Homo sapiens: one gene and its partner. The protein of the gene in region 1 purifies or fractionates together with the protein of each later gene. This does not show direct contact. Each region holds a gene or a part of one and is shown in the gene's direction. Other genes may lie near its edges.

Region 1 (3,500 bases):
AGCATTTTATCATTATGAAATGTTCACATGTATTTCCAGAATTGCTTTTGTCTCATTCTTATGGTTAGAATAGATTTATTTGGTTAGTATTTTTATGGTATCTCTTTTTCATACTTTCACTTTCAACTCTTCTGTATCCTTATGTTTTAGATATGTCTTTTATAAATAGCAGATAGTTGATTTATTTCCTTTTTATAATGTTTAGTAATTTAATTGTTTTTTATAAATAGAGACGGGGTCTCACTATATTGGCCAGGCTGGTCTCAAACTCCTGGCCTAAACCAATTCCCCTACCTTGGCCTCTCAAAGTGCTGGAATTACAAGTGTGAGCCCCCATACCTGGGCAGTTGACTTTTTTCTTACTCAATTTTGAAAATTTTTGACTCTTAATTGTATTATTTAGTTAATGTCCATGTGACTTGGATTTAAATCTGCTCTTTTATTAAGTGCTTTATACTTTTTCTAGCTACCTTGTGTTCTTTGTATTTTGCCTTCCTTGCTTTTTGGTGGGATATGGGAATAATTCTTTTTAAGTTACACTTTTTGAGACTCTATTAGCTAGAAGTTTTATATTCATTTTATTATTCTTTTAGTGGTTATTCTGGACAATACAAATGCATTTTTGACTCATCCAATTATATTATTAACCAGTACTTTTTTTTTTTACCTTTTATTTTTTTAAAGGAAAGCCAGGGTCTCACTATGTTGCCCAGGCTGGTCTCAAACTCCTGGCTTCAAGTGATTCTCCCACCTCAGCCTCCCAAATTGCTGATATTAGAGGTGTCAGTCACTGCACCTGGCCATTATTTTTTATTTTTTAAATTGACATGTTAAATATTTTCTCATAGATTGCAAAGACCATGGAATACTTTAACTCCCCACCCCCAATTTACATACCATTTGTGTTGTAATAGTATATTTTAATTCTTAACATATTTTCAACCCAAGGACATGCAGTTATTACTATTTTTAAAGTCTGTATTCAGTTGGATCTCTACACGTTTACCATTTTTGTTTTACTTTCTTCTTCCCTCTCTGACCATTTTTCTGGAATCCGTTTTCCACTGCCAGAAAAACATCATTTACTCTTTCCTTTAGCGAGGACCTGCTTGTGACAGCTTTTCTCAGTTTTTGTTTGTCTCCAAATGTCTTTATTATGCTTTCTTTCTTGAAGGATATTTTTGTTTTGAATGGTTGGCACTTAATATGTTTTAAGCATGGTTGAGACATCGTTTCTTCTGAGGTAAACTGTCACTCTGAATTGTTGTTCTTTTGTGAGTAATATGTCTTTTTTCTCTAACTGCTTTTAAGGTTTTCTCTTTGACTTTGGTCTTCTGCAGTTTTAATATGATCTAGATAATTTGTGATGTTTAAAAATCCTGCTTAGGGGTAGTAGGTGTTCTTTAATATGTCTTTCGTTGGTTTTGTAAAATTCTCATCCACTGTCTCCAAATATGGCCTTTCCTTCATCCCCTCATCTCTCTTTCTGGCACTCCAATTACATGTATGTTAGACATCTCATTGTATCTTCTATGTCTGTTACCTTTTAAGTTTTACTTCATTTTGGCTACTTTTTTCTGATCTCTGTTCCAAGTTAATAACTATCTCCTTAACTATATTTAATCTGTTCAGCCCAACCACTTTTAATTATTTTTTTAAATTAAATATTCCTGTTTGGTTCATTGTCTAATTTTCAGTTGTTACAATTCTCAATCTTATTTTTTGTCTCTTTTGAGCAAGTATGGTTCTTGTAAGGCCTCAATTAACTTAAATATCTCGAGCTCTTTTAAGCCTGTTCTGCTGTCTGTTTTTTCTCCTAATTTTCATTCATGCTCTGATGTCATTTTTTATGTCTGGCTACTTTTGATTATGAACTGGACCTTGTACTTCTAGTTTGTGAAACTAATCTGAAGGAGAAGATAATGTTATTTTCTATGAGAAAAATTTTTTCTGCCAGTTGCAAACTAAAATCACTAATTTTTGGTACTGATATATTTTCTAGCTGAGCTCTAACTTGAGTGGATTTGCCTACTTAGGATTTACAGTTATATTAGGTCATAGCCCTCCATCGTCCCAACCCAAAGAGGAAAGGGTGGCATCATTAGCTGCCCTACCTCTTTGGTGGTACTAACTCCTATCCTGGTCCCCCCAGTCCAGGATTCTGTTAAAAGCACATCCAGACTCTCAGCTTACTCAGCAGCCCCTTATGGAAGGGGCACATGCCTCCCAAAATAATTGTTACTCTAAAATATAGAGCTCTCCCCCTTGGAGCCTGTCTTTTTTTCAGGTATGGTAACTTGTTGCTTTTTATTTTTTGATATTTTGAAATATATTTTGTCCAGTTTGTATAGTTGTCCTGATTAGTTGATATTGGTATAGATTATCTTATCTGACATTATAAGGTAGATGCTATTATTATCCTCAGTATGTAGAAAAGGAAACTAAGGCCTTAAAGAGATTGAGTGATTTACCCTAGGTCCCACACCTAATAAGTGTGAGCCTATTTGATTTTGTATTTATTATTCTTTTTTTTTTTGACAGAGTCTCTCTCTGTCATCCAGGCGGGAGTGCAGTGGCACACTCTTGGCTCACTGCAATCTCCACCTCCTGAGTTCAAGCGATTCTCCTACCTCAGCCTCCCAAGTAGCTAGGACTACAGGTGCATGCCACCATGCCTGGCTAATTTTTTTGTATTTTTTTAGTAGAGGAGGGCTTTCACCACGTTGGCCAGGCCAGTCTCAAACTTCTGACCTCAGATGATCTGCCCATTTAGGCCTCCCAAAGTGCTGGGATTACAGGCATGAGCCACCATATCCAGCCTATTTAGTATTCTTCTTTATATGCATTTATTTATTTATTTATTTATTTTTTATTTTTATTTAATAGAGATGGGGTCTCACTATATTGCCCAGGCTGGTCTCAAAATCCTGAGCTTAGGCAGTCCTCCTGCCTCTGCCTCCCAAAGTGCTAGGATTATAGGCATGAGCCACTGCGCCCGTCCTATTTAGTATTCTTTACAAGACTGATATGCTTTGGCTGTGTCCCCACTCAAATCTCATCTTGAGTTGTAGCTCCCATGATTTTCACTTGAGTGGGAGGGACCCAGTGGAAATAATTGAATCATGGGGGCGGTTTCCCCCATACCGTTTCATGGTAGTGAATAAGTCTCACGAGATCTGATGGCTTTATATGGGGAAACCCCTTTCGCTTGGCTCTTATTTCTCTCTTTGCTGGATGCCATATGAGACGTCCCTTTGCTCTTCCTTCATCTTCCACCATGATTATGAGGCCTCCCCAGCCATGTGGAACTGTGAGTCAATTAAACCACAGTCTTTTGTAAATTGCCCCCTCTCAGATATGTCTTTATCAGTAGCATGAAAATGGACTAATAGATTAATTATAATGGTGTATATTAATCTTATTTTCCTCTTATAACCACCCCCCATTTGAAAATCTAATAAAAGCTATGGACTCTACCTTGAGAAAAATGAAAGCACTCC
Region 2 (3,500 bases), on another chromosome or scaffold:
GTGTTTGCTTGCACATTGCTGTATCCCTTCTCACCTCCATTAGTGAACTGTCCACCTGAGGAATTTTTCCTCCCTACCACTTCTAATGGAATATTCTGCTAGAACAATCTTCCCCCTCCCTCACCTGTAAGAACTGGCTAAACTAGAAACATTCCACAATGTTTCTTTTTTCTTTTTCTTTTTTTTTTTTTGAGATGGAGTTTCGCTCTTGTTGCCCAGGCTGGAGTGCAATGGCACGATCTCGGCTCACTGCACTCTCCACCTCCCAGGTTCAAGTGATTCTCCTGTCTCAGCTTCCTGAGTAGCTAGGATTACAGGCACGCACCACCCACACCCTCTAATTTTTGTATTTTTTGTAGAGACGGGGTTTCACCATGTTGGCTAGGCTGGTCTCCAACTCATGACCTCAGGCGATCTGCCTGCCCCAGCCTCCCAAAGTGCTGGGATTACAGGCGTGAGCCACCACTCCTGGCCTCTTTTTTTTTTTTTCTTCTTTGAGACAGAGTCTCACTCTTACTCAGGCTGGAGTATAGTGGTACAATCTCAGTTTACTACAACCTCCAACTCCCGGGTTCAAACAATGCTCATGCCTCAGCCTCCTGAGTAGCTGGAATTACAGGTGCACACCACCACGCCCAGTTAATTTTTTTTTTTTTTTTTTGAGACGGAGTCTCACTCTGTCGCCCAGGCTGGAGTGCAGTGGCGCCATCTCAGCTTACTGCAAGCTCGGCCTCCCGGGTTCATGCCATTGTCCTGCCTCAGCCCCCTGAGTAGCTGGGACTACAGGCGCCTGCCACCACGCCCGGCTAATTTTTTTATTTTTAGTAGAGACGGGGTTTCACCATGTTAGCCAGGATGGTCTTGATCTCCTGACCTTGTGATCCGCCTGCCTCGGCCTCCCAAAGTGCTGGGATTACAGGCGTGAGCCACCGTGCCTGGCCAATTTTTGTATTTTTAGCAGAGACAGGGTTTCATCATGTTGGCCAGGCTAGTCTTGAACTCCTGACTGCAGACGATCTGCCTGCCTTGGCCTTCCAAAGTGCTGGGATTATAGGTGTGAGCCACTGTGCCTGGCCCACAGTGTTTCTTTTTTTTTCTTTTGAGATGGAGTTTCGCTCTTGTTGCCCAGGCTGGCGTGCAATGGCATGATTCCAGCTCACTGCAACCTCCGCCTCCTGGGTTCAAGCGATTCTCCTGCCTCAGCCTCCCAAGTAGCTGGGATTACAGGCATGCGCCACCACGCCCAGCTAATATTGTATTTTTAGTAGAGATGGGGTTTAGCTGTGTTGGTCAGGCTGGTCTCAAACTCCTGACCTCAGGTGATCCACCTGCCTTGGCCTCCCAAAGTGCTGGGATTACAGGTGTGAGCCACTGCACCCAGCCCACAATGTTTCTTAGAAGGTAGTTTTCTCTGTATCACAGCAGCTCAGTTCTATAAATGTTTAATTTTGTTGTATGCATTGAATACCATGCTATCCTTGTTTGTGGATGGGACAAGGTGGACAGGTGTGTCCACTCCTATGCCTGGGAGTACAGCATGGTGCCAGGAGGGAGAAAAGCTAGGGCTCAGTGTCTTGGGAATTATGCCAAGCCGGCTGGTGCTGGACTGTGATTATCTTTGAGGATGGGCTTTGGGGCCCCATAGAGCTCTTTTCTGTTATGGGAGGTTTCTAGGATCAAACAGCTATGACCACCATCATCACATTCCTGGCTACTCCACACTATGGAGCTGCGTAATGATGCCCTGTACTATGCTACTGGCTGAAGCATTTGGCACACACCCTTTCTGATCCTCACAACAGCTGAGTGAGGTGGCATTATTACCTTTATTTGTAAATGTGAGAAAACAGAGGCAAAAAGAGGTTAAGTGACCCATTCGGAGTCATAGAGCAAGAAAGTGGCTAAGTCCAGATTTGAGAGCAGGTCTGAGCAAAGCCTGCCTGAAATTTGCTTTTAGTCATCTTGTTTTGTTTTGCCATTTACCTTTTTGTATAATTTTTCTATTGCTCTCTGTTAGTCAAATTATTTTTGAAATGTCAAAAAATTTCTGTGCAGAAAATAAAAACCCTCAAAATAGAGTGCTAGGAGCTCAGGGGGTGGGGGACGAATATAGTCAAGTATTAAGACACAGCTAGGCCGGGCGCGGTGGCTCACACCTGTAATCCCAGCACTTTGGAAGGCCGAGGCGGGTGGATCACGAGGTCAGGAGATCAAGACCATCCTGGCTAACATGGTGAAACCCCATCTCTGCTAAAGGTACAAAAATTAGCCGGGCATGGTGGTGGCAGGCACCTGTAGTCCCAGCTACTTGGAGGCTGAGGCGGGAGAATGGCGTGAAGCCGGGAGGCAGAGCTTGCAGTGATCCGAGATCGTGCCACTGCACTCCAGCCTGGGCGACAGAGTGAGACTCCATCTCAAAAAAAAAAAAAAAAAAAAAGACACAGCTCCCACTGCCGTCAAAAAACGTGGAGCTGGTGAGGTGGTTCATGCCTATAATCCCAGCACTTTCGGAAGCCAAGGCAGGAGGATCGCTTCAGCCCAGGAGTTGGAGACCAGCCTGGGCAACATAGTAAGACCTTGTCTCTAAAGAAAATTTTAAAAATTAGCTGGGCATGGTAGCACATGTCTGTAGTCCCAGCTACTCCAGAGGCTAAGGTAGGAGGATCACTTGGGCCTGGGAGTTTGAGGCTGCAGTGAGCTATGATTGCACCAACTGCATTCCAGCCTGGGCAACAGCACGAGACCCTGCCTCAAAAAAAAAAAAAAAGGCATGTGGACTGGCTCAGTGGGGTGGCCCGAGGTTCGGATGGGCTGTAGGGCAACACTGATCCATGGCTGCAGGAGTTGAGGAAGGGATGTAGTTGTGAGGATGGAAGTCAGAGCTTCCTTCAACGGGTGGCCCCACATGGCAGAGGAGCCCACTGTGGGCGTGACTTCCCTCCTCTCTGTCTCACTCAACCTTGGGTCTGTCAGTGTGATCTGCTGGGAGATTTCTAAGCTTCTAAGACAGCACCCTATAAGGGACCCAGGTGGGGAATAGACCGTGACCAGCCAGCGACCCCTACTACCCGTCACTCAAAAGCACTAGCACCTTCAGCCACTCCTCCTGGGGATGGGTCAGACTTAGTTTTTTAGAAAAGCAGAGTGTTAGGTTCTTAGCTTGGAAGAGGGCAGACAGGCCAGTCCTGATACCTGATGGGGCATACCATCTCCCCTGATTTTCTGGTCCTGTTAGAATTTTCCATCTGAGAATTGGGAGGGTATTGACCTCCGCTTGGTTTCCCCATGATGTGTGGGGATCAGACCCCTGGATAACGAAGGTGTTGTTGAGGGTGGGTAGGAGAGCCTCCCCTGAGTTCTCAGTACCCCTTTGCCTCTCGTGCCCACTGCAGAGGCAGCTTGCCAACTACAACTTTGACTTCCGGAGCTGGCCAGTCGACTTCCACTGGGAAGAACCCAGCAGCCGGTGAGGCCCCAGTTCTTTTGCTGTATCTCTCCCC

What was found. Proteins that work in one complex are often made in the same cells at the same time.
Region 2: the proteins of TBC1D9 (region 1) and ABHD16A purify together in Homo sapiens (co-immunoprecipitation; 3 studies listed by BioGRID and IntAct, with this or other methods). This does not show direct contact.

The regions. Positions count from the first base shown.
Region 1 is NC_000004.12:140,746,386-140,749,885, reverse strand, and holds part of TBC1D9 (TBC1 domain family member 9), read left to right. Parts: intron 1-3,500. UniProt on the Homo sapiens protein: May act as a GTPase-activating protein for Rab family protein(s).
Region 2 is NC_000006.12:31,693,325-31,696,824, reverse strand, and holds part of ABHD16A (phosphatidylserine lipase ABHD16A), read left to right. Parts: intron 1-3,392; coding exon 3,393-3,466; intron 3,467-3,500. UniProt on the Homo sapiens protein: Phosphatidylserine (PS) lipase that mediates the hydrolysis of phosphatidylserine to generate lysophosphatidylserine (LPS). LPS constitutes a class of signaling lipids that regulates immunological and neurological processes.